3 separate regions of the Homo sapiens genome follow, and all the other regions are linked to region 2. The links come from fine-mapping of genetic effects on gene expression. A gene starts in region 2. Each other region holds a variant in brackets. All regions are shown on one strand. Distances are between the middles of the regions.

Region 1 (10,836 bases), 85 kb before region 2:
TACTCAGGAGGCTGAGGCAGAAGAGTTACTTGAGCCTGAGAGACAGAGGTTGCAGTGAGCCGAGATCGTGCCACTGCACTCCAGCCTAGCCGACAGAGCGAGACTCTGTCTCAAAAAAAAAAAAAAAACCTGAGAGATAGTTAGAAATGAGATGCTTCTGATCCCTGTTAGTTTATGGTACAGAGGGGTTAGAATAGACAAATTATTAACTGAACTAAAGTTTCCTCTCACAAGAATGAAGAGCTAAAAACTATACATACTAGCAGCAGAACAGGGTAAAGCCACATGTTTTCCACGTTTGTTTGTTTTCCACATTTCATAGCTCCAGTCTGTACACAGCTGATTTGTTGAGTTATGGTGCTAGGGCAACTAAGAGCATGAATGCAAACCTCGTGATGTTCAAACCAAGTCAGTAAATGGGTATTGCCTGGCCTGAGGTCTCATTTTCTAGATACAAGTAACAGCAACAGAGTGTGTCGAAACTAGGGCAGGGTTTGCATCAGGTATCCTCAGTGGTTCCCAAAACTGGCATAATCTTAGAAGTTTGTTTTTTAAAAATCCACATTCCCTAATCCTTAACCCTCAAGACAACAACAACAAAAACACTACTAAATTAGAATTCACAGGAGTCTAGAAATCTAATTTTTTAGAAAACAAACCATCACGTGTTTCTGATGACCAGCCATGTTCAGGAGCCACAGCTGTTCTCATTTAATCCCCCCTGTAATTTCACAAAAGTTACTAATGGATCCACTTTATAGATGAGAAACCTGAGGCTCAGGAGGAAGCTGCTCCTAGGACCACCGCTAAGTAGAGAGCCTTAGCGGAATCAAACCTAGATTGGTCAGCAAAACAACCATACCTACAGCAAGTAACTGTATCAGACACTTTACCCTGACTCCACTTCACTTCCTCTAAGAACTATTTTACTTAAAAAACAACTGACTGCATGCACTCTTGAAAGAGTCAACAAGTTTTGTCATCTTTCTCTCCCATCGGAATTCTCTCATTCTCCTACCCATAGTGGGAGCTAAGGATGTTTCTTGCCTCCTAAGACTTGGAAGTCTTGCGTTCTCCCACATCAGAAACCTACCTGACCCAGGCGCTCCTCCCTCAGGAACTGGATGTTGACAATCAACATGGGCTGATGGGAGAAGGTGAACCTCCCACACCCACCCTCTTCCCTGGCAAGGGTCAATCTCATTATCCACTACTCAGCCACCTCCTGCAGCCCTCCATAAAGTTCATGCATTAAAAGGTTTTTGCTTACAAAGCAAACTGCTTGTATGAAATGATTCATTCTACCTCACAAAAAAATACATCTGAAATTATCAATCAGAGCTTCAATAAATGTAAAATTAGTAAAAAGGGTGGATAGTTTCATCAAAAAGCAAATAAACTTATGTTTTTGTTAGTCTGTGCAGCCTAATTGTGGCCAAATGTACATTTTCCTTCAAAATCCTTAAAATAATAAAACAAACTTGCAGAAAATAAAGAATGGCTGGGATTTCAGAGTAGGAATAACTGTAGCCAAAGGAATCATTGTAGTGGTATTTCAGGCATCATGGCGGGAGGACTTAATCACGGGCTCCAAACCTTTGCCCCAGTAACAGCCACATACTCTGCCCAATATGAAATCTGCCCTAGTCAGAAAAAGTTCTAGGGAAGACTGTGTAGATAGAATCATTAAGGTTAAAAAAAATCAATTTTGTTCAGATGTGTTCTCTGTTGAAGGGAAAGAGGGAAAGGAAGAACAGCCTCACTACATGCTATGAGATGGTCAAACTTTAGTGTTCACAAGAAACATCTGGAAAGCTTGTTATAACATAATATTCCCAGCTTCACAACTCCTGGAAACGCCAGTTCTCCTGTCTGAGCTGGGGCTTGGGATCCTGCATTTTCATCAAGCACCTCAGGCGATTCTGATGCAGGTTTCTTCCTTAAGTTGCTATTTAAAAAATTCTGACAATGTGGTAAGGTTCCAAGAACAGGACAATGAACGCTGGTCTACACTACACTGAGATCAAAGGTTGGTAAACTTTTTCAGTAAAGGGCCTAACAGTACATATTTTTGGACTGACAGTCTCTGTAGCAACTACTCATTTCTACCCCTGCAGCAGGAATTGCCCACAGTTAATAAGTATACAAGAATGAGCTTGGCTGTGTTCCAATAAGATTTGATTTATGGACACTGAAATTTAAATGTCATAGAATTTTCACCACATAAAATATTACTCTTCTTTTTCTTTCTTTTGTTATATTTAAAAACATAAAAATGATTCCTAGCTCAGAATTGCAGGCAGAGGTTTGCCAACTCGGATTTTTCAATTGTGATCATGAAGCCAGCTTTTCTATGGATGAACTTTAAAACTTAATTTTTCATATTTAGACTAATTATTTTGTCCCTCTTAGGAAAATTACAAAAACACATCTATAAAGATGTTTTCTGGTCCACCCTTTGCTGTATTTTCAGATATAACATGTTCACAGCTTGCTATGGCTGATAATTTTGGATGTCCTGTGGGGCACAGTTCCTCATTTAGAAATCACAGTTCAGTCAGTCATTCTCTAAATTTACCACATAAAAATAAAAAGTGTGCGTGCCCTTATCCACAACACCAGGGCCTACTGAAGCATCCTTTTATTAGTTTTTTTCTCAAATTGAAGATAAATAAGGGAAAAACAAAAAAACCTTTTCTCTTCCAAATGACTCAAATGGTCTAGCAAGTCTGTGAACAGCATTTTGCCATTTGTGAGCAAGGAACCAGGAATGGAGTTCCTTTATTTTTTTTCCCTCCATGACCTTTTGTTGAAAACTAGCTTAAATAGTGTCTGCTCACATTTCCAGCACACTGGGTTATAACAGTAATAATGTAATCATAACTAACAGTAATGATACAAATCTGCTGCCCTATTAAAGGTCTTTACCTCCAGGGGAATTTCTCAGGTTATTAAACATTGTTTAATAAGTATCTGGAAACCAAATAAGAATTCCAGAAGTAAGCTCCAACTCTGCATGATGAAATTAACAAACATTGTCATCATTGAATCTATGTATTGTGTTTATCTACTAGGAACAACAGAAAAAAACACTTGAACTAACTAAGCTCATTCCTTCTTACTGAAATGCTTCTCAACCAGACACATCCAAACATGACCTCATCTCTTAAGGAATGAAAACCTACTGTAGTTATCTAAAGCACTCAAGCCTCGATCTGTCACTTCATTACCTTCCCCTCCTCAAGACAAAGTAACCCACTTTAATGGCATGAGGATGTGTTGTCTCTTGATGAAGTTAGAGAACAGAGGAGTCATAAATCCTCTCTTCCCATCCCCGAGTCTAAACATCAGCTTAGAGGCTGCTTTGCAGTCATAGTCCATGAGATGGTGCGTCTGCCTTTCATCTTCTTGCCAGCACTCTCTTCCAGCCTCTGAAGATAATATATGGCATGCTGACTCAGGTGGAGAGGCAGGAATCACAGCAAAGACTTAAACCCTAGTCTGTGGATACATGAGAGCCCTCTGTGTTGCTCGTCAGCTGGCTGATTTGTGGACGACCACATTTTTGGAGCTCAACCAACTGCCTCACCTGATGGAAAATGCTTATGAACTTATAAATCACCTTTGAATATATTTTCTTGGTAGAAATAGAACAGATTGCTAGCTCCCAATTCCCTGAAATGTATATATCAGTGTATAGAACCAATTTAATGATTTGAGAGGACTGAGGACTAAAAACTGTATTAAAAGCTTCTATTAAAAAGAGACAATAGAGAAATGCTTTGTTTAGGGCTGGGAGTTTTGTGAGTAATATAGGAAATGCAAATAAAAATAATAGGTAAATGCAATTTTGTTTTAGTCACAAAAAAATTACAGACTGGAGTTAAACAGTGGGCCTATTATATTAGTGCCGTGGTTCCGAAACCTGGCTGCATATTAGAATCATCCAGGGAGCTTTAAAAAAAATTCCAGTGCTCAGGCTGCACCCAACACCAATTAAATCTGAATCTGGGGGGAAGGGAGTAAAGTCCAGGCCTCTATATTTTTTTTTAAAGCTCCTCAGGTAATTCCAGTGTGCAGCCAAGATGGAGAACCTCTGCCTTGGAGAATACAGTCCCTGCCCTTCTGAAGCTTACTCTTACAATATTTACTTGGTGGATTCTGTCCACCAAGTGTCTTCCTCACTTCCGTCAGTAACTTCTTTACAGCTGGAATCTGGAATTTTAAATTTATAGATAGAGATATAAATTCACATACAGGCCAGGCGCGGTGGCTCATGCCTGTAATGCTAGCACTTTGGGAGGCCAAAGCAGGAGTATCACTTGAGGTCAGGAGTTCAAGACCAGCCTGGCCAACACGGTGAAACCCCACTTCTACTAAAAATACAAAAATTAGCAGTGCATGGTGGCGGGTGCCTGTAATCCCAGCTACTTGGGAGGCTGAGGCAGGAGAATCACTTGAACCTGGGAGGTGGAGGTTGCAGCGAGCTGAGACTGCATCACCTCACTCCAGCCTGGGTGACAGAGCGAGACTCCATCTCAAAAATAATAACAATAATAATAAAATAAA[TAATA/T]AATAAATTCACATACACACATATATAAAATACATGCACACATATTTTTATTTAACTTAGGCCCTGATTATTAGTATATAAAACAGAAAAACCAAGTGCCTTGGTAATTTACATATCTTCTCCAAATCTTTAAAGAACCAAGCTCTAAAAAACACACGTAAAGATATTTAAGTCATAAAACACACACACACACACACACACACACACACACTCTAATGACCTTCAGGAACCATAATCCAATAATATATTTAATAGGTAAGATCTCATTCATCAATATACAAAAAAAAAAAACAAACCAGAAAACAAAAAACTAACTTTGATTAAGACATGTGCCCTTAGTAAGGGCACTTACAATTAGAAAGGTTTATCGGTAGCACTTTGAGGTAGCATATTTTGTAAAGTCACAGGGCTGCTCTGCAGTTTCTCCTGGATACAAAGGTAGAGGCCATCAGCCTTTGCCCCTAGAAGAGGAAAGTGAAATTATCTGTACTCATTGCCAGTGTCAGCCTGAACACACTTTCTACCACCCACCCTTGGCCATCCCTCCTCTACACTTTATGCGTCGGGGGTTTAGAACAACGTAAAGGCATTTTGCTGCTTCTTTCCTCTTGGTACGGCAGCATCCCAGGCTGTGGAGCCAGTTGCCTCTTGCCGCATGTGATTCACCAGCAGGAGACGCATGCACCCTGTGGAAAGGGAAGCTGGGCATCACAGCATGCTTTTTAATTGGCTTTAACATTTCATTAAGTAAGAGTGACTCATTCCTGCAAGGCTTTAAAGAGGTTCATTTCTGAGTATTCTCTCCACGATTCTGACCCTAGAAAGCGCTCCTTTTTTTCCTCCCTGGGTGTAATCATTTTGGGGTATCATTAAGCTTTCTGGGATTTTCCTGGCAGGAGGGTGAACAGAAAAGCTTTAAAAAATCCACACAAAACAATAACAAAAAACCCAAGTGCAAGAGCAATACCAAGAACAGACTTCCTTTGTGCAAGTTAAAATGATACAAGTTTACGGTTCAGGAAAACAACCTACTTCTTAAAACAAAACAAAACAAAACAAAAAAGGAAATATTCAGTTGAGCTCTGCATTTTAAACACAAATATACAGTCAAAAGAGGCTAAGGATTAAAGCTGCAAAAATGGTCCCAACAGCCTCAGACTTTTGCTGCAGGAAAATTTTTTGCCCAATGGTCACAGATTAAAGGGATATCTAATCCCCAAGAGCCCTTTTGTCCCAATATACTTCCTGTTTGAAAGTTTAACCCTTACAAGTAATTGATATATAAGTGAATAAAAATAGCACATGTCCAGGCAAAAAAGGGCATGAGCTGGGCCTGAGTTGCCACTTAAAACTGTCATTCAATATCATAGAAAATCCTCAAAGGCTGCCCAGAAACAGGGCCCCAGGCACTGCTGAACATGCCAGCCACCAAGTCAACTGCCACCCGACCCAACTGAGCATTAAACTTCAAGTATCCAAGGTGCTACAATAGCTGGTCCTCTAAAGACCTCAGGCTGACTCTCAGAAGCCCCCACTCCACCCCACCCCATTATACAAAAAGTAAAAACATTGCTCATGGTCATTACAAAATACGGGGGTGGAAAGTGAGGAATAAGAGATCTGCTCTCTGAATACACCAGCCTTACAAATACAAACAACGTCTTTAACATTTTGTACAACTAGAAGGTGCATGAAGCTGGTATCCAAGCAATAATTTCAAACGCTTTCTTTTCTCCCCATTCTGTATCAAACTGGAAAATGGTTCCGTTGGGTTAACAGTGTCATTTTAAAATGCCATAAATTAAATAAGTTAGTTCACATTTTTTTTCCCCCAGCACTTAAGTTACAGTTAGTCTCTAATGTGCTTTTGAAGCTTGCTTTAGCAGTTCCAGGTCTCTTCTGCGGACAGTGGTGGCTCTGGGACAACCATATTCGTCCAGCTGCAAAGGTATGAATTGTTCAAGCACCCCAAGGCCCTGTCCAGCAGGACTGGTAAATAGCTTAGTCCATGATGGTTTAAAGTTTCCACTGAATCCCAAAAATATGGTACTCCCTAAAAAAAAAAAAAAAAAAGAAAAAGAAAAAAAATCAATTTTTATAGCTACATTCCAGCAAGAGAATATAGGAGGTGAGTCGGAGGTGAGCAAAACAAAGGCAGCTATTAAAAAACTCTGCACTTCCTTACATCAGCAAATGAACTCTCACCACCCACCTTTTGCCCCAGATAACAAACCACATCCCAACACACTTCCTCTCACATTGTGCCCTTATTTAGAAATCATCTTAATGATACCCACTCCAGCAAACAAGCTCATGAAAATGGTCTGGTAGCTGAATTGCACCATAAAATTACCTATGTTGCTGGCCCTGTAAGAACTTCATGAAATAATACAAATACAAACCTTTGTCATAAAGATGAGCTGGTTTGGCTAATCCCAGAGGTACTAGTAAGTGTGAAATGTTTAACTGCTTTATTTCTCCTCTTGTGCTCAACAGAACAATGGACCTGTATGTGAAATTTAGAAAGTCAGAGCCAATTTCAATCCTTCAGCATGAGTATCTTTCTACTGAGTATCTTTCTGAACTGACTGCTGAATAGAAATATTAGATAAAAGCAGAACTCCAAAAAGAAAAAAGTCTAGATGATTTTCCATCCAATTCCCACTCTTCCACCCCACCACCATGGGCTTCACACGTTGCTCTTACAAGGGGTAACGCATACATAAACCAAATCATTTACGTACGTTCACCTAGTGCAGGGCTTCCCAACCCCTGGGCCATGGATGGGTACCAGTAGATTAGGAACCAAGTTGCACAGCAGGAGGTGAGCAGGCGAGCGAAGCTTCATCTGTATTTACAGCCACCCCACAACACTTGCATTACAGCCTGAGCTCCGCCTCCTGTCAGGTCAGCTGTGGCATTCAACTCTCATAGGAGCAGAACCCTATTGGGAACTGCACATGTGAGGGATCTAGGTTGTGTGCTCCTGAGAATCTAATGCCCAATGATCTGTTGATCATCACCCCCAGATGGGACCATCTAGTTGCAGGAAAACAAGCTCAGGGCTCCCACTGACTTTACATTATGGTGAGCTGTGTAATTATTTCATTATATATTGCAATGTAATAATAATAGAAAAAAAGTGCACAGTAAATGTAATGTGCTTCAATCATCCTGAAACCATCCCCCTTCACCTCCAGTCCATGGAAAAATTATCTTCCATGAAACCAGTCCCTGATGTCAAAAAGGCTGGGGACTGCTGACCTAGTGGATGGTCTGGGGCACAGCTCTTTTAGGGAATAGTCTATTGTTGTTGTTGTTGTTTATAATTTGTATAAATTTGTGAGGCACAAGTGCAATTTCATTACATACATAGGATTGCATAGTGGTGAAGTCAGGGCACTTAGGGTATCCATCACCCAAATAATGTACACTGTGCCTATTCAGTAATTTCCTGTCATCCACCCCTCACCCTTCCTTCTCCATTGTCTATCAGGGAGTAAGTCTACTGTAACATGGGAGAATGGTTTTGTTTTGTTTCAAATACTCTATTTATTTAAGTTCTATTATCTATTTATTAAATAAATGGATAAACACAATTCTAAAAATAAATAAACGACTAAATGTGTTTTCCATGGTTTGAATTACCATTTTTGTCACATAGTAAGCCAACATACATACTTGGACCTATCTGTGGATTCTCCGTTCTTCTCTGATCTTGCTCTTCTCTGCCAAAACTATGCTGGCCTATGGCTTCACGGTCCATTTTAATATTTGATAAAAACAAGCCCTTGTATTACTGTAATTTGTTTATATTTTACTACTTTCTCATTTATTCTTCCAGATGAACTACAGTATCAACTGTCAAGTACAGTAGAAAAGTACCTTTTGGGACACTAATGGAAATGTGTCAAATTTATATTTTAACTAAGTAAATGTAATGCACTTGAATCATCCTGAAACCATCCCCCTCCACCTCCAGTCCATGGAAAAATTATCTTCCATGAAACTGGTCCATGAAATTAACATTTATTAATTTTCCATTCAGAAACAGAGTCTCTCCTTTTATTCAACTTCTGTTGCATATCCTTTAGCAATATATTTAATAATGTATTTATTTTCTGTGTGTGTGTGTGTGTGTGTGTGTGTGTGTGTACACATACAAACTCACTCTTTCAAAAACTTTAATCAGAAATGTTCTTGGCCAGCCGGGTGCAGTGGCTCATGCCTTTAATTTCAGCACTTTGGAAGGCTGAGATGAGAGGATCATTTGAGCCCAGGAGTTCAAGACCAGCCTGGGAAACACAGCAAAACTCCATCTCCACAAAAAATTAGAAAAATAATAAAATTAAAAACAAAAACAAAAACAAAAAATAACCAGCCAGGCTGGTGGTGTGCACGTGTAGTCCCAGCTACTTGGAAGGCTGAAGTAGGAGGGTCACTTGAGCCTGAGAGGTCAAGACTACATTGAGCTGTGGACACATCACTGCACTCCAGCCTGGGCAACTATTTTTGTTTTCTTTTGTTTTTTTAGAGATAGGGTCCTTGCTCTGTCACCCCAGCTGGAATGCAGTGATGCAAGTATAGTTTACTGCAGCCTCAAACTCTTGGGCTCAAGGGATCTTCCTGTCCTAGCCTCCTCAGTAGGTGAGACTACAGGTATGTGCCCACATACCCAGATAATTTTTAAATTTTTCATAGAGACAGGGTCTCATTACATTGCCCAGGCTAGTCTTGAACTCCCGGCCTCAAGCAATCGTCCCGCCATGGCCTCCCAAAGTGCTGGGATTATAGGCATGAGCCACTGTGCCTGAACTCTTGGCCGGTATTACTGAAACAAAAATTTTCAAGAACAAATCAGTGTTTAGGGGGCTCTGAGTAGCTCTTATTAATTAAAAGGTAACATTAGATTGATTTATTTTCAGAGTCATCAAGGATACCTACAGGAAGTTGAAATTTGTGTGGTATGTCTTAATGTGGGTCTCGATGGTTCTTAAGATTAAGTACCTTAAGTTTCATGCTGGTATGGGTTCTTTATGGTAGTCTTTCTTTCTTTCTTTTTTTTTTAGAGACAGAGTCGCGCTCTGTTGCTCAGGCTGGAGTTCAGTGGTACAATCTTGGCTCACTGCAAACTGCCTCCTAGGTTCAAGCAGTTCTCCTGCCTCAGCCTCCCGAGTAGCTGGGATTATAGGTGCCACCAACATGCCGGCTAGTTTTTTGTATTTTTAGTAGAGATGAGGTTTCACCATGTTGGCCAGGCTGGTCTCGAACTCCTGACCTCAGGTGATCCTCCTGCCTCAGACTCCCAAAGTGCTAGGATTACAGGTGTGAGCCACCGTGCCTGGCCTACTGTAGTCTTTCTAAAGCAGTGGTGACACAATCTAAAATTAGTGCAGCAGTCTAAGCACGGCTACCCTGCAGACCTGACCTTCTTCAATAGGTCAGAATTACCCATAAGATCATTTACAGGTCACCCCGCAACCCTATACACATAGACACGTGCTCAGTCTCCCTAGAAGTCACTGCCAGTTGCTCCATACCTTCTTAACACTTTGTTAAAATGTTACACACACACTGAATTTTTGCAAACGAAACCTATCTGCATAACCAGAGGCAGATCAAGAAACAGCATTACCAGTATCTTAAAAGCCTTTCTGTTAATGAGTTGGTTTTACCTCTTAAATCTATGGGGTACCTTGCAGGACTACCATGTTGTCCTAAATACTTGTGGTGAGATTTATGTCCTGGATTGTTTTAGGGGAAGTGAGTGCATGTATTTTCAACATTAGGAAAAATCTTTAAATCCTGCAAGAAAATTGAGGCTGTACAAGTGTCTTAAGCCAGAAGACAGAACGACATATATACATTTAATGTTACATCCAAATAATCCAGTGACTTCATAGAATTTATTGGCATCCGGTTCTATAAAGCATAAGCTATTGGAAAATGATTCTAAAGCTAGATAGGCCTTTAATTTGGGGAAAGCTTAAGTTCCTTCCTTAATGGTTCCATTAAATGAAAGCGGGTGTATAAATCAACATCTGCGGCAAAGGCAGAAAACACCCTGAGTTCATCTCCTTGCCTCCAGGCAGGGTCTCACCAACCCAGAAAAAGAAAGGTTTCTCTCCTGTGCAGCTTTCTTCAGAGACATCAAAGAAAACCAATCAGACTAGTGCTCTGTAAGAGCGATTGCACACTCAGCCACTTCAAAAATCAATTTACTCTTTTCCAGTCATTTCCAAGTGACCCAGGTGATGACTTCC
Region 2 (6,619 bases):
AAATTTTATTTCTCACAAAATTGCTCCCCCACCCCCAACTGTTCCTTCTCTGGCTTCTTAGAGCGTTCTGTGCGTAATTCTCCCAGACATGCACTTATTGGACCTTCTAATTGTTCATTTCCTTATGTCCGGGGCTAGGCTCATTTCTTCAATAGCAGAGATTGTCATCTCTCTAGTTGCAAGTGACACAGGTATCTTCAATCCCTGTGGCCTCCCGGGTTGCAACCACTTCAACTCCTTCTCTTTACCAACATGAATGCTCCACAAAGCAGGTGTTGCAATTGCTTCCAGAGGGTCTGGACCACAATAGGTGATTAATAAGTGCTAGCTGAATGGATGGTGGGTGGGTGAATGATGCAATGCTCATACATATTTTAGAGCACACATCACAATGCACACATTTACATACAGCACTCCATGTGAGTCTAAGACCATGAATTTGGTAGTGATTATTGTTTCTTCTTTTTTTTCTTTTTTTTTTTTTCAGATGGAGTCTCGTTCCCATCACCTAGGTTGGAGTGTAGTGGCACGATCTCGGCTCACTGCAACCTCCACCTCCCAGGTGCAAGCGATTCTCCTTCCTCAGCCTCCCGAGTAGCTGGGATTACAGGCGTGCACCACCACACCTGGCTAATTTTTTTTTGTATTTTTAGTAGAGATAGGGTTTTACCATGTTGGCCAGGCTGGTCTCAAACTCCCGACCTCAGGTGATCCACCTGCCTCGGCCTCCCAAAGTGCTGGGATTACAGGCGTGAGCCAATTGTGCCCGGCCTAAGTTTCCTCTTTCTAAAATGTGGCTTGTCTTTCTCAATTTCAGAAACTTGCCCAAAGCATGTAGCTCTAAGCAGTACCCTGTCAACTTCAAGATAATGGCCCACAAGACTACATTACCCTCCAGCTTGTCTTTTCTTGATAGCTGTTTGAGGACAGCATTGATTAGGCCTATTAGAACATGACTGAAGTGTTGCCCCATTCTGGTTTCCTGTTATGAATCTGACATTTCTGAAAAGTCACTGGTTACAGACTAGATCAAGGAAGGAGACTACTCAAATAATTAACTGTGACACAGAATATCCAGATAAACACCATGTAAGAATTTACAGATTCTATTTCCCTGTCCACACACAGGAGAGTCCTCAGCTCACTATCTCATTCACAGGTTAATAAGAACAGGTGATGACTCAGAATTCGCTTCTAATCTTAGTTTTCTGAGCCTTTAAGCACACATACATCAGAAAAAAACAGCGTCAGGAGGACTGAACAGAAAGCCAGAAGACAGATTTCCAGTTCCGCCCAAACTGATCCTCTAATGCAGGTACACAGAAGCTGGGGGAAGTCATTTCGGTGTGAAGAGAAAAGCACTCTAAAGTGCTACCCAATGTTTACTAAGCAGAGGACATGCCTACTACACATTCTTCTGCTTTGCCCAGAAATGCAAACTAAAAAGAACCCTTTGTATAGGTAATCAGACCCACAACCACAGTATGATACCCAGACCAATTCTGAAAAGAACAAGCGTCCTTCAAGGGTCAAATAAGCATTAGTAGCTCCATTCTAGCCAACCAAAGAAAGATAAGGCTAACCATTTTAAAGGTGTTTTTTTAACACTGAGCCATTTCCAACAGATTTGCCTGGCTGCTCTGGGGAGTCAGGCCTCCCTCAGCTCAGGTGAAGCCTCTACCCTTTCCCCTCTCTCTAAATTCTTCTCACTTTTTACCGGGAAGAGCAGCACATCTCAATACATGCAACTGTGCAGCAGCGCATCACTCTGTCACACTGAATCAAGGGGAGTGAACTCAAGGCAGTGAGTAGCTCATGTGCACAATGAAAGTTTTAAAAATTATTAGGCAGTCTATCCTTAATCCCAACTGCTGATAAAAGGAGATATATATCAAAGTCTGTTTTCCTAACCTGCGGAGAATTCAAGTGAGCTGTTTCCGCTCCAGGTCGAAGTCTGGTGACACTCATCAACCCTCAGCAGAGAGCATCCAGGGAATTCAGGACCTTGGTTTTATCGCTAAGGGTGTAGCCACTAGTGCTATTAACAGCAGCACTCTGGGTCCTCACAGAGAGGGCCCCCCTCCTTTACCAGGATCTCCCAACTCTGCAGAGAAAAGCTGGGAATAGGGTCCAGGGCTAAGGCTATTCCCCAGATTTAAAGGAAGCTGTACACGATTTTAAAGCCTCACCTTACCTCAGCTAACAGAGAGGCAGGGGGCGGAGGGCGGAGGACCCACCAACCCAGGGGAATTGTAAGGAGACAAAGATGACCCCAAACGCACAAGCGCGCGCGCACTGAAGCCCGGACTGCAAAGCACATTCCATCAACCTTTCACTGTAATCGGCTTACTGTGGGGTTTATCCCCTCACCCCATCCCTCTCCAGAAAGTTTAAGGCTGTTCGCACCGACTTTGAAAGGTCCATTGTTCCCTTCCCCGTAAACGTAATGAAAAGAGAGAGTGGAGAGAAAGAAATCAAGACACCGTTCCCGAGGACCCTTTCTTAAGAAGAGAGGACTGACTCCTGGGGAGTCGGGTCAGTCCCAATCCAGAGATGAAACCGGGAAAGGAGGCGCACGGGGGAAGGGCGGGAGGACGTTTTCCTTTTCGGCAGAAATGCCCAACGCCGGAGCCGGCCAGGCCGCCGGGAGCAGAAAAGGTGGGCGAGACCCGGGTCTGCGTCCCCGCAGTGGCCCCCGAGGGCAGCAAACGAGGTGGAGCGGGGTGGGGGGGCGGGTGACCGAGTCGCTTCTTACCTTCCCCTACCCCGCTTAGCGTCCGTTAACTCAGGTGCCTACACAGCGGTCCAGGGAGACGGAGAGGAGTCCCTGGCGTCCTCGGGTCCAGATCTCCTCTCCATGGCCAGGAAGCCACTCGATTGCCGGCGCCCGCAGCTGCCGCTCGTACTCAACTGGCAGCCGCAGCCTCTGCCTGGAGGTGAAATACTCTCCTCCCGAGAGTGACGCGCACTTCCCTCCGCCTCCGCCTCCTCCTCCTCCTCCTCCTCCTGCCCCGAGCCTCGGGGGCAGGGGCCTCGGCTCGCTCTCTCCCGGAGCCGCCGCTCGGCTTTCTCCGTTCCTTCCCCTCCGGGAGAAAGAGGAGGAGAATCGTGGCCCGGGCGGCGCGGGCCTGAGCGTCCCCGCGACAACAGGGGAGGAGGCGGCGGCGCGGGGCAGAGTGGGGTCCCAGGAGTCGCTCTTGTCCCTGGTCGGCGGGCGCCGCGGCTTGCTAGGGTCGCGCTCAGCCTCCGCCGGCCAGACAAGCAGCCCGGCTCGGCTGGGCCGGGAACTGTGGATTGGGCGGGCGGGCGGGCGGGCGGTGGAGAGCGAGGGAGGCGGAGGGAGAGGAGGAGCCTGCCATCAGAGGAGGCGGTGGCCCCGCCCGGCCCCTCCCGCCGGCCCCGCTCCCCGCGAGCTGCGAAAGCGGAGGCTCAGCGCCACTCGCTGCCGCGCGCTGGAACAGCGCCCGAGCGCACTGCCGGCGGGGCAGAGCCCCAGCCAGCGCCCCCCGCTGCGGCTGCAGGCTCCTACCCTTCCTGGGCGCGCACACCCGCCTGGCCGAACCGGAGCCTGTGCCTCCAGCACCCCCAGATAAGGCTGGTACTGCGCCTGTCACTCCCTGGCTGAGCCTGACACTGCGCCCCCAAAGTCCCCTGGCTGAGCGTGACTGCACCCCATCAACCCTCGGCTGCGTCAGACTTTGAGCCCCATCACCCGTAAAGAGATTTCCACACTCCCACAAATGTTCTGAGCGTCCAGTCACAGCCCCTACCTGGCCAGGCGCGAGCGCCAGGTTCTCAGCGCTGTCAGAAGAACCAGCCTGCTCTGGGACACAGGGCAGCTCTTCTGGTCCCTTGGAGCAACCCCAGCATCCCGCTCGCAGGCCGGAATAAATATACTTAGGTCTTCCCACGCCCCCTACCTGCGCCACTCTGGAGTGGCGGCCGCTTGCAGAGGTGGCGCCGAAAGCCACGCCCCGGCCCACCCCAGTGCCAAAACGCCGCTCTGAGGACACCGGCACCGGCCCTGAAGCAGCCCTGCCGCCGCCACCCTGCCCCCTCGCTGGAGCTGCTCTCACAGCCTTGGCTCTGGGTGAGGGCGCGGCCCGGGCTGGATCACTCAGACGCACGAGGTCCCGAGCTAGTGACAGCTGCAGGACTGCCAAATCCGGGCCGTCGTCATCCTCGATTTAATTGGAATTGGAAGTTTTCCCTCCAGGAAACTCTTTCAGTGAATAATATACAAGGTAGGATAGTTTAGTTTTCAGGGTTGTTCATTCCTCCTCCCTCAACAAACTCAGTCCTGTAACCGCGACACACCCGGCAGTGAAGGGGAATCCCCTATTTCAAGGGTATTAGTTCAGGACTTTGTATAAGAAATTACTGTTTCCAAATCTTGGCTGATGATAAGAATCCCCTGGGGCACTTAGAAAAAATTGGATTGCCAGACGTCGCGCAATCTACTGAATCAGAGGTATCGGGAATATGTAAGTTTGGGAAACAGGGCTAGAATGCATCCTCTAATTAATTAAAGCCTTGGAAAGATGCCTCCAAAACAGCAGCGCGAGCTAGTGCTGAGATCTTACAGAAACTTCACCCAGCTGCCTTTGAGAGCCGCTGTCCCTTCTGGGATAGGCAGGGAGGAAAGGTTTTTAAAATAAGGAACATAGTTTTGAATAACAAGATGGAAGGGACAAAAGACTGTTTTCATGGTCCAAAGGTGTTTTGGATTGTGCTTAATAAAGATAGAAACTGTGTCACCCGTGTGCTAGGCTGAAAAATGTTCCCTCCCCAGAGATAACAGGTTCTAAGTCCTGGAACTTGTGCATATTACCTTACATAGACAGAAGCAGGGCCTTCGCATATGTGATTCAATTAAGGGTCTTCTTGAGTTGGGGAGATTATTCTGGATGATCAAGATGGGTCCTAACTGCAGTCACATGTACTTTTATAAGGGGAAAGGGGGTGGTTAGCACACACAGAGGAGGGCTGGCCACTGTGGAGGCAGAGATTGAAGCGATGCCTCCACAAGGCAAGGAATGCCAGCACAGAGGCAAGGATTCTCCCCTAGAAACTCTGAAGTGAGCAAGATCCTGCTGACACCTTGATTTTGGCCCAGTGAAACTGAGCGCAGTCTCCTGCTTCCAGAAGTGTGAAAGAATAAACTTCAGTTGTAAGCTACACTGAGTTTGGGTGATATGTTGCAGCATAGGAGGCCTGTGCTGGGCCAACTTTATATTACAAATATCCATTTTTTGAATCCTTATTAAGTGCCAGGCACTTTGCTTGGAGTTAGGATATGTTATGGGATATGTTGTCTAATTAAATCCTCCCACTAATTATTATTTCCGTTTTAAAGATGGGACAGTAGGACTTGAAAATTTAAAGGGTCTTCCCAAGGCCACACAGTAAGAACCTCTTGGAATCAAGTCTGCAAACCACTCAAATGTTAAAAATAGCAATTAGGCCAGGCGCGGTGGCTCACGCCTGTAATCCCAGCACTTTGGGAGGCTAAGGAAGGTGGATCACAAGATCAGAAGATAGAGACCATCCTGGCTAACATGGTGAAACCCCATCTCTACTAAAAAAAAACACACAAAAAATTAGCCAGGTGTGGTGGCAGGCGCCTGTAGTCCCAGCTACTCGGGAGGCTGAGGCAGGAGAATGCCGTAAACCCGGGAGGTGGAGCTTGCAGTGAGCCAAGATCGAGCCACTGCACTCCAGCCTGGGCTACAGAGCGAGACTTCATCTCAAAAAAACAAAACAAAACAAAACAAGCAATTAAAAATTTATATACATTAGTCTAATAAAATTTTTGGTTTTAAAAAGGACTTATTTATTTCCACAATCTGTATTTATTGCCCAAACCAAGGGAAATGGATGTTGATTGATAGTGGAGTGGGCTAGTGGGGAACAGGGGTGTAGGAGACCTCTTTACACTTGCGCTCAATTTTGTTGTGAACCTAAAATTGCTCTAAAATATAGTCTGTTAACTAAAAAAAAAAGGGTAGGGGGATTGAATCTGTGTGTGGCCTATCTTTGAGAATTGTATAAACTTTTGTTTTTAGATATTTATCTGGAACATAAAAAATCAAAGGAAAGGCCGGGCACGGTGGCTTAAGCCTGTAATCCCAGCACTTTGGGAGGCCAAGGCAGGCGGATCACCTGAGGTCAGGAGTTCAAGACCAGCCTGGCCAGCATGGTGAAACCCCACCTCTACTAAAAATACAAAAATTAGCCGGGCATGGTGGCACGCACCTGTAGTCCCAGCTACTCGGGAGGCTGAGGCGGGAGAATTGCTTGAACCTGGGAGGCAGACGTTGAAGTGAGCCAAGACCTCATCATTGCACTCCAGACTGGGCAAAAGAGGGAGACTCCGTCTCAAAAAAAAAAAAAATCAAAGGAAACTGATGTGAAAGGAAGCTATGAAGGAAACCAACAAAGTAAGAGGACACAGACTTCTCTGATCAATGGGACTGATGTCACAGATTGAGTTCTCAGGGAAGCAGGCTCTGAGACACTGACAAGATGTTTCACCTGTGGGGGACAGGCAGGAAGCAGCATGGGCAAAGGGAGTAGCTGGGGTGTACCCAATGGCCTTCATTGATCCCACTGGGGGATC
Region 3 (10,836 bases), 24 kb before region 2:
CTTATCTACCACCTATGCTTTTTGGCAGAGGCAAAGAAACAGCAGTCATCTTGGAGGCAGAAAGCTGGGGCTTGATTCCAGCTTCCTCATCCCTAATAGATCATCTCTTCACGCCAAGCCCAGAAGATTGTTTCTAGACTAGAGAATGGTCTATTCTAGTTTCAGCACCCCCAACTCAGCTTTGTTCTAAAACAAGCTTGTCCAACTCACAGCCCGTGGGCCACATGTGGCCCAGGACAGCTTTGAATGCAGCCCAACACAAATTCATAAACTTTCTTAAAACATTATGAGATTTTTTTTTTAGCCCATCAGCTATTATTAGTGTTACTGTATTTTATGCGTGGCCCAAGACAATTCTTCTTCCAATGTGGTCTAGGGAAGCCAAAAGATTGGAGACCCCTGTTCTAAAAGATTACTGGATTTTGTTCTAAAAGATTAAGCACAGTAGGAAAACTAAGTTTCAACTTCAACTAGTTGAGAAATCTAACCAGGCGGACTGTCATTTGAACATAATACTATTCTTAGAAAAAAAAAATCTGTCATAATACTTATCAGTGTCTTACAAGAGTATAAACTCTACTTGCCTACCTTCAATCCATTCACTATAAGCTGTCACAGAGAACTTCTGGCCATCCACAGTATAAAATTCTCTTTGGGCAAGAGCCTTCCCGCCACTGCTATGATTTTCATAGTTTCTCACGGATTCATTGCAAGAAGTGCTTCCACCATCAATGACACCAACTAAAGCCCAAGCTTGCCTAGAAGGAAAAAGAGCATGTGCATTTGATTACTTGTCATGGTATTCACAAAATCCCTGACAAAGATGTTATTACAGAGTGCTGTTTAATTCTCATATTTCATTTTCGTCAATCCCTAATGTTTTTTCTATATGAGGCTGCAGTTCCAAACCTTGACTGCACCTAGTTCTCCTAGAAGGAAATGCAGCTACTTTTTAAATACTTGTTTGTCCAGCTCTGTAATAGGTGAAAGACCGATGACTACAATTTCAATTAATCATTGACTTACTTCCTCAATACACATCCATATCACACATAACATTCTGGCCAAAATCCATTTACTTTCTCTTAAAATGATTATCACATGCTCTCTTTTAAACTTTCTATTAATACAATGTTCTCAAAAATCTAATTGCATAATAGAATTACCCAGGGAGTTTGAAAAATATATCAATGCACAGACCCCATCCCAGATAAAGGGAATCATGTTAATAATTGCAAAAGGTTGGGTACAGCATTTGTAGTTTGCAATAATTTATTTTTATTTTTTGGAGACAGGGTCTTACTATGTTTTTAAAGTTCCCAGGTGACTGGAACATGCAGTTAGGCTTAAAAACCACTGATTTGGGCAGTGGTTCTCAAACTTCAGTACGCATCAGGATCAACAGAAGAAAGGAAGGGCATGCTGAATTAGATTGCTGGCCCCACTCTCTCAGTTTCTGAGATGGGACCAGAGAATTTGTATTTCTAACAGGTTACCACATTATGTTAATGCTGCTGGTCAGGGCACCATACTTTGAAAACCCCTAAATTATAGACTAGAGGTTAGAGTAGTGATCATCAACCTTCAGTAGCCTGGGAGTCTTATCCTTCTTTTATCCTTCTTCCTGACATAATTGATCTAAGGTGCACCCTAGGTGTCAAGATTTTTTAAAGTCTCCAGGTGTGCAGGCAAGGTTGAGAACTGAGTTAGATTTTTTTTTTTTTTTTTTTTTTTTTTTTGAGATGGAGTTTCGCTCTTGTTACCCAGGCTGGAGTACAATGGCGCAATCTCGGCTCACCGCAACCTCCTGCCTCCCAGGTTCAAGCAATTCTCCCACCTCAGCCTCCCGAGTAGCTGGGATTATAGGCATGTGCCACCACGCCCGGCCAATTTTGTACTTTTAGTAGAGATGGGGTTTCTCCATGTTGGTCAGGCTGGTCTTAAACTCCCCATCTCAGGTGATCAGCCTGCCTCGGCCTCCCAAAGTGCTGGGATTACAGGTGTGAGCCACCGCAGCCAGCAGAGATTTCTTAACGTTCCTAAATTAAATCAAAGCTGTAGAATCACTATCCAACAGATTTTAAATTTTATATACTATATGTCTATTTGTTGACAGCAATGTGTTTGAAAACACCATTATTTCTTTTTCTTTTCTGGTTTTTTTTTTTTTTTTTTTTTTTTGAGACAGAGTCTCACTCTTGTCGCCTAGGCTAGAGTGCAATGGCGTGATCTCGGCTCACCACAACCTCCACCTCTGGGGTTCAAGCGATTCTCCTGCCTTAGCCTCCCAAGTAGCTGGGATTACGGGTGCCCACCACCACACCCAGCTAATTTTTGTATTTTTAATTTTTAGTAGAGACAGGGTTTCACCATGTTGGCCAAGCTGGTCTCGCACTCCTGCCCTCAGGTGATCTGACCTCCTTGGCCTCCTAAAGTGCTTGGATTACAGGCATGAGCCACCACACCCGGCCTAAAAACATTTCTGATACTAAATATCTGAGAGACATGCTCAAACTTGTGACCAAAAGCAATCAACGCAAAGGGACAATTTTTAAAAACCAGAAAATCTGCTTTAAGACTCCTGGTTTAAAACACGAAAAGAAAAATGTCAACTTCCCACTCTAGAAAAAAAATAACAAATGTAATCTGTGTCTGACAGATGGCTAGATATTCACAGATAAAAGTTAACCGAAGCATGCCTACACCCTTACAAATTCCACAGCCGCCCCTGTATGGATTAGCTACTCTTTGGACGACAATGCTTTGTAGCTTGTTTTATACCACTTGATAAAGCAGAAAGAATCAAATAAAGAATGTCTCAATATATTATCTCCTATTTGGAGAAGAAAAGAGAGGAAGAATTATCACAGGCTTCCTTTCTTTACCAGAACTGCCTCAGCAACTATAAAACAATGTTCTTTCTCTTCTATCGACATTATCTCCAAAACACTCCTACTTCCCTCCTCCACTTGAGGGAAAATTTCAGCGCACCAGAACATTATCTTCAAAGGCCTATGTGTTTATGTACATTGGAGATAACGTCAATGCAATGGAACGCTGGCAAAAGATCACAACTCTAAGTTCTCTATGAAATCAAGAGCAATATTTTAAAAGGAATTTAGAAACCAGTAGGGAGAGGAACCTAAGAAAGTCAAAATGGTCACAGCTAATGATCATGCAAAACTAGAAACAATAGTAGCATGAAGAAATACAAGTTGTAATCCCTGGCATTACTGGATAATGAAACAAAGTAGGTATCTAACTTAGAAAAGATCATGCTTCCACTCCTAGGTTTATATATTATAGAAATACATGCACATGTACATTAAGAGATGGATCAAGGAACATTTAAGGAAGCAATTTTGTAACAGGTCCAAACTGGAAAGCCACTCAGATGGCCACCAATAAATAAACTGTGGTATATTCATACGACAGAAAATAAACAGCAAAGAAAATGAGCCTCGGCCGGGCACATGGCTTATGCCTGTAATCGCAGCAATTTGGGAGGCTGAGATGGGAGGATCACTTGAGGCCAGGAGTTTGAGACCAGCCTGGTCAATAGAGTGAGACCCCCATCTCTATTTAAAATTAAAAAAGAAAAGAAAAGAAAATGAGCCAGCACTACATGCAACAATATGAATAGCATTCAATAACATAACACTGTGCAAAGAAGCCGGACACAAAATATAACATTGTCGGCTTCCATTTATATAAAGTTGAAAAACAGGCAAACCTAAACTTTAGTAGATCCCACAGATTCAGGAGCATGGCTCCCTTCGGTGGGGAAGAGAGTGATTAATGCATAGCAGAGGGGAGGAAGGGAACTTCTGGGCTGCTGGCAATGTCCTATTTCTTGACCTGGGTGGTGGCTACACAGGCATCACATTGCGGCAACTTATTAAGCTCTACATTGTTATTTTTGGCACTTTTTTGCATGTGTATCATATTTCAAAAACAAAAACCAGAAAGAAAAAAAAACCCTTTGAGGTTTTGCACATGGAATTCCCTTGGTCTGAAAAAGCTTTCTTCTCCACTGTCTACACAGCACGCTCCCGAACTTCTTTCAAGTCTCTTGCCTTTGGGGAGCCTGTACTGATTCACTAGGCCAATTGAGAGGCTCCTTCTGTTAATACTCACGCTCCCATTGCACCCTGTAACTGCAGCATGTCTCACTGTATGATCATCATCTATTTAGGTCTCTGTTTATCCACTAGATTAACCATGGGCTCTGAGACAGTGTCCTTTCGTCTAAGCATCCATGGGTATCCAGCACTTAGCATCTCCTAAATATCCCCTACATGAATAAAAGCCATTTCTAAAATGTTACAGACTGTTTTTCTTCACTATTTTTTGTCTTTCTAGCCTGTTCTAGAATTGCTGTAGGTAATACCCCATTCCAACAACCTACTATCAAAGGAAAAAATAGTAACTAGATCATTACGGCATGTCGGTTTTGAGGTACTCTTACTTTTTCCACCACAGATATTCCCTGACTTTACTAAAAGCATTCAGCAGAATTAAAAGCTTCTGTCTTTTAAATGAAATGTTAGGTCGGCTACTTCCCCTAGACTCAGAACTGCGTTAGGAAATCACAGTTAATTAGAATATGGCACAAGAAGGCTGGGTGTGGTGGTTCATGCCTATGAAGCCGATGTTTTGGGAGGGTGAGGCAGGAGGATCACTTGAGCACAGAAGTTTAGACCAGCCTGGGCAACAAAGTGAGACCCCCTCAACTACAAAAAGTTTAAAAATTAGACAGGTGTGGTAGCAACTGTTTGTAGTCTCAGCTACTTGGGAGGCTGAGGTGGAAGTATCACTGGAGCCTGGGAGGTTGAGGCTGCAGTGAGATACGATTGTACCACTGCACTCCAGCTCGGGCAACGGGGCAAGACCCTGTCACTAAAAATAAAAATAAAAGGAATAGGGTACAAGAACCATAAATAGCAGAAATGAATTCTACTATCTGGATGAATTTCCTAGCCCTTTAACTTTTTCCTTCCTCATATATGCCAGGGGTCCATAGACCTGTGCCAATCAAACATGCAGATTCCAATCAGCCTGCAAAGGAGTCCGAAAAAAGAAAAAGAAAAAGAAAAACTGCATATTCTACCCCCTCAGCCTTTTAAGACAGGTTTAGAACTTAGCATGAAATTCTGCCCTAACCTTTAAACTCATTAAGTTGCCTCAATTAGCCTGAGTTTCATATGATCTTCAGAAGGTAACGAAAGGAAGAAGTATCTTCAGAGGCAAATTGTCCTTAAACTGCCTGACTGTTTTTCAGTACCACACTTCTGCTCTCAACTTTTCACAAGTCTGGCACTCCAGTTCACAAAGGGCTTTGTAAACCAAAGCCAATGAAAATAGCTTTTGTATGTGGTGTCCTATCCTCCAGCCCCATGTCTCAAAGCTACCAGACATGCAAATGGTAGAGTGGCCCTTCTGATGCCTGAGTCATGCTGTGGCTGTGGCTCCTTTCCCCACCCTCACTCTCCTCTCACACAGACACGGACTCTGATAGGGATCTGGGAAGAAGGTATGCCTACCTGTAGCCCAGTCCTTGGATCAGTTCACTTCCCAACCGTTCCTGGATCATCTGGATGGTTCCTTGTAAGAGACTTTTAGCGGCTGAATCCCCGACAGCTATGGCAACAATCCGACCTGGATCCTGGAATCTCAGAAACTCCTGAAGCCGCCTGCTCTCATTGCGGTATTCATGGGTATCAAATCTCTCACTTTCCAAAATTTTGGCCGTGTCTTGGTCAATGACCCTCACATTGAGGCCCCGGGAAAAGTCCTTTTCAAAGGTATAGGACCCAAAGGGCAAGCCTGAGGAATTCAGGGTCCTTGCCAACAACGTCCACGATGCCTTCCGTGCCCCATGTAACTCCAGTGTCCCGCCAGCTTCCACACCAATAAACTTTTTGCCAAATGTTGGCATACTTTCACCTTCATCTGACTTGCCATACAAGGTAATTGTCGCTTTGGATTTATAGCGGCATTTTTC[T/C]GCTCCAATATGAAGCGCCCCACCATCCTGGATCAGGATGTAATGAGTCCTCAAAGTAATATTTCTGGATCCATCTTTATTGTCCCCAAATACAAGCAGTCCTGCAGGGAACACCACCCTGTAAGCCAACTTCTAAATCATCTTTCTGAGATACAAGGAAATAGATTTCACCTTAAGTTAAATACACTTCCGCAATTAGGTCGGAAAAAAGAATTCGCTAAGAATCTGCTTAGAAAACTAAAGGGAAAAATGAAGAGTTCATATCTTAATATACTCTCAATGCCCATGACTGTGAATTTCAACCTACTCACTTTAGAGGTTAAATCATTTCTCTTAAAAATATCTAAGAGTCTACAAATCTGAATCTTATTTTTGTATATGTTTACTCATGTTAACTCTCAGAATTGTGACAAAATCACTCTCAGAATTGTGACAAAAATTTAGCTCTGAGAGATCACCTCTCTGGAACTGTTTCCTTGTCTATAAATCAGGGGTCTTGATTTGAGTGATACCTAAGGTCTAAGCTCTTAAATTCTATGTTTTTTATCTCTGGATAAATTCTCTGGTTTTATCTCATGATCTTTCCAAATCTCCATGGTTAGAGTGACACCACAAACTAAAGCCTATTCTGCCTAAAAATAGTCTTCTACATAAGGAACATCAAATATCCCCCACATTAAAGAGCAACCTTGCAGTTCCCATAGGCAGGAACCATTACCTACCTCCATCCTGAATGACTATAGAATGCACGGTGGCGTCTGAGGTCAGACGGAGCATATCTCCCTCCTTGATAACAACTTGCTTTGCAGAATCTTGTCCTGGATCCCAATTCCTGAGACGAGGATTTTGATCTGGGCAATTTTCTATAAACACATTGATATTCCATCCAACCCATTAAAATGCAGGAATAATATAGCCGAATCTAAGCACTACCATTATTTACTGCAGATCTGCAAAAAATGTGCTAACATATGTTGATTTCCTGCCATTAGAATGGAAATCCCACGCCTTCCCACCAGCAGAGAACCATCTTACCCTTTAATTTGTCATCACATTTCCATTTTAAAGTTTTACCACAAAACTAAATTGCTAGCATCTAGTTCAGGACAAACTTCACCAAAAAAAAAAAAAAAAAAAAAAAGTTTCCCTGAATCATCTACTCTGGAAATAAACCAATAGTAAGAGGCAAAATTATACATTCTCTTGGGATTCACACTAGAAAGCTGTTTTAGAAAAGAAATGTGTTCACAACATCCTGGTAAATCAAAAATGAAAATTGCTAAATAATACATTGATCAGGTCTTCACAAGTTCCTTCTTGCACACAGTGAATGATGAAGTAAGTACTGATAGCACCTCTCTCCAAGACTGAGAAACATCACTATCTTCAGCCATGTGCACTCTCCCAACAAAATGAAAGAGGCAAGTGGCTAAAGACATAACTTCTCATTTTCAGAGATGAGGAAATTACAGGTTAGAGAAACCAAAGATTACTTAGCAAGCTGAGTGATACGCAAGTTTCCCCTTTTAGAAAATGAGATTATTGACTTGTAGTGTTCCTTTACTGGAATTAGAACTTGCCTCTTGAATAGGTATTATAATAACAAAAATATAACAGTATTTAATTAAAATAGCCATAGCTATTTAATGTATGAAAACTTTAAGGTCCGCCATAATTTTGAAGAGGGGAGAAAAAAAATCACGCCTTCAATTTTGATCAACCTATGGCCAAGTATTTGTGGAGCATCAATTTATCCACTCTGTACCAGATATTTTAAAATTTATAAAGCATAGAATCAGCTCACATTTCCTCAGAGTTTATATGCAAGCTTTGGAGGGAAAAAACACCAAGTATGAAATAATGAAACACTGAACAATATGGTAGTCAGTCGAGGTTCAAAAGACCTCAGGCAAAGGAGGCATGGGGCTGGAGTAACTGAGGCAGCTTCATGAACAGGTGACTTGAGAGCTGGACACCAAAGGATGGGCAGTATTTAAATAAGAGGATCATGAGAACACTAGTAATGCAATTATCCCTTGAGATCCAAGTAGTCCATTTGGTTGTTCAGAATTCCAAGGTGGCTTTATTTAAACTCAGCTAAGGTAAGAATAAGCAAGATATGCTTGAAAAACCATAGGAAGAAATTCCTTTCATTAAGGTGGCAGGTACATGTTTAGGAATAACAAGAGAAAAAGTAGAGAGGTAGGGTGCTACACAAACATATTGTTCTATACAGAAAAAAAAATGATTCCTCATTTTGAACTTGCATAACACTAATGCAAACATCTTCCTGTTTCTGAGCTCTCACAATGCCCTAGGTTTATGCTTTCTCTTATTAACCACAGCTACAATTAGCCTCACCAGTTATATCCTTGGCAATTATTTCATGGAATTAGTTTTTCTCACAGCAGTATCATAACTGTTGATATTTAATGCTTCTGATAAGTCAATGAGTATCACTATTATACTAAAAACAATCTTTAAGCTTTTCTTCCCATCAAAGAAACAAAAAAACTCTTAAATTTGTTTTGCCTTAATAATGAGGATTCCTTAACTTTTCTACCTCCCTCTTCCCATACAACATCTAGCTGAAATTCTCCATAGTTTTATAACAAGCACTGTACCCAGCTATAAAGAAGGAAATCCAGTCTTTTGAGATCTGGAGCCTACTTCAATGATTATATAATTTCTCTTAATTGTTTTTAATTATTTCCCAGGAGAGCATGGTTCATTAGAACCATCACCAAAAATTCCAGTCTGTTTCCTTCCAGTAAAATGCACTTAATGAGAAAATGTGTAGTCTGTACAAAGCACTGAAAAGTAGCTCAGCCAACCCCACCTTCCCAGCTACCCACTTGAAGAGCAGTGAGTATATTATCAAAGTTATGTAACAGCAATAACCACAGTCAAGCTGACCCTGAAATATTTCAGCATACCAGATCTTTCCACTGATGATCTGCACTTTACACTGCCAAAATGTGAAACTAAAGAATGTTGGTTCAAGGAACCATATCAGCAATGCCCTGTTTTAGATGGAATATGAAAACACCAATCAAAGCCATAGACTTCAGCTCTGATTTCCCACTGGTCTAGCATCCCTTTACTGCAGAAGAGTTGGGAAGTATGAATCAGCACAGTGAACTTGGTTATTATGAATCAGCACAGAGAACTTGGTTATTCTGCTGGGAAAAGGAGAGAGGAAGTCATACCGCATGCAATGGAAATCAATGTTATAAGTTCATAATGTGGTCTACTTGTTTGGTCCATAAGGATATTAATGTGCATGTCTCTCTCATTTGAGGTTTATTTTCTTAGAAGTACTAGCACTACCTCTCCCAGAACCTTAAAATTTTAAAAATCCCTTGAAAGCACCCAAGAAAACTAAATAATAAAGTATTTGTAAGTCTTATAAGTAGTAAAATGCCTCTGAACTGTTACAGCCACTTAAGGAAGCATTTAACTTGACAAAAATCTGTTGTAGACAAATATGGTACCCAGTCCAGGCTGTTAGAGTCTTCTCTCTTCACAGCCCCGAGTCCTTTGATTTTAGACAGATGGATGGTATTCTTTTATGAGGCAATTCTTTGTTGGTATTCCAATAAGGCTGACTTGCAACCATCTTCTTCAAAACTTTTCAAAATATTGATATATCATTAACTTGAAAAGAAAATACCATTTAAGAAATTAAAATCTCCCTGCATAATATTTAACTATGAAGTAATGACTGATTTTTAGACAAAGGTGTCAGAACTTATATATCCTAAAGGATGCTTCCCTTCCAGGATATATATTGTTACTCAAAAATATTTGAAACTTTTCCTTTGGAACTGCTTCCCAAGCCCATTTCAAGCCACAAACACAAATATTATTATTTTTAGTCACTTACTTAAACAAAAAAATCTAATATAGTTCACTATACGTATGACTAAAAAAAAAAAAACTTGCGGCCGGGCATGGTGGCTCACACCTGTAATCCCAGCACTTTGGGAGGCCAAGACAGGCAGATCACCTGAGGTCAGGAGTTCGAGACCAGCCTGGCCAACATGGTGAAACCCTGTCTCTACTAAAAATACAAAAATTAGCCAGATGTGGTGGCACTTGCCTGTAGTCCCAGCTACTCAGGAGGCTGAGGCATGAGAATCATTTGAACCCAGGGGGCGGAGGTTACAGTGAGCCAAGAACACACCACTGCACTCCAGCCAGGACAACAGAGCAAGACTGCCTCAAAAAAAGAAAAAAAGAAAAAAAAAATTGCAGCAGTCCAAAAATCATACCTACCATAAGAATTTAGTGAAGGCCCTCAAAGCATTTCCAAAAGAGGTACTCCAAGACCTCCCTGAGTGCTGCAACAAAGTGGCACAATGGACAGGAAGAGCAACCATTTAATCATTTCCAACAGATTATTGAACAATTGCTCTCATTCATAAGAAGTGACACCTCGTATTACCTAACTACATATTAGTTAGCTAGGGCCAACTTAAGATAAATTTTTTTTTAAGTATTCTACTATTTCCTCCTCTTTTGTCTTCTAGAATATGTTCTATGTGCATATACACACACTTACCATCTGGAGCATATTTTGAGGATATTCCTAAAATGATTGCAAGTGCAATAAAAAATGAGAAACTAGTAATAGCAAAACAAATGAAAGTATTTTTGTGTCTCTTTTGCTTTTGACTTTCTCTCTGGGCTTGCTGTTCTTCAGGTGAGAATGCGAAGGTTGCCCGGTCTTCTCGTCTGATGGAGGTAAATTTGGCTGAAGCTTGACTCTTTGGAGGAGGAGGGGGACGCAATGGGACAACCTTCCCTGGAACATAGCCAGATGGGTGACG

The links. PIP is the estimated chance that this variant, and not a neighbour inherited with it, causes the effect.
Region 1: its variant is fine-mapped to the expression of CEMIP2 in whole blood (TOPMed, PIP above 0.99).
Region 3: its variant is fine-mapped to the expression of CEMIP2 in whole blood (TOPMed, PIP above 0.99).

The regions. Positions count from the first base shown.
Region 1 is chr9:71,678,768-71,689,603 of GRCh38, forward strand. CEMIP2 (cell migration inducing hyaluronidase 2) reads right to left here. Exons shown (of 24, transcript NM_013390.3): 23 at 6,976-7,079; 24 at 4,599-6,626. The coding sequence ends at 6,430. Among named protein-coding and RNA genes, the nearest start is that of CEMIP2, 84 kb to the right of the region's middle. The variant TAATA/T (reference allele first, on the strand shown) is at 4,570.
Region 2 is chr9:71,765,602-71,772,220 of GRCh38, forward strand. CEMIP2 (cell migration inducing hyaluronidase 2) reads right to left here and starts at 2,912. Exons shown (of 24, transcript NM_013390.3): 1 at 2,756-2,912. RefSeq lists enhancers at 2,570-3,251, 3,252-3,933 and a silencer at 3,007-3,676.
Region 3 is chr9:71,739,475-71,750,310 of GRCh38, forward strand. CEMIP2 (cell migration inducing hyaluronidase 2) reads right to left here. Exons shown (of 24, transcript NM_013390.3): 2 at 10,569-10,836; 3 at 6,727-6,867; 4 at 5,544-6,105; 5 at 589-758. Among named protein-coding and RNA genes, the nearest start is that of CEMIP2, 24 kb to the right of the region's middle. RefSeq lists an enhancer at 4,360-5,224. The variant T/C (reference allele first, on the strand shown) is at 6,005.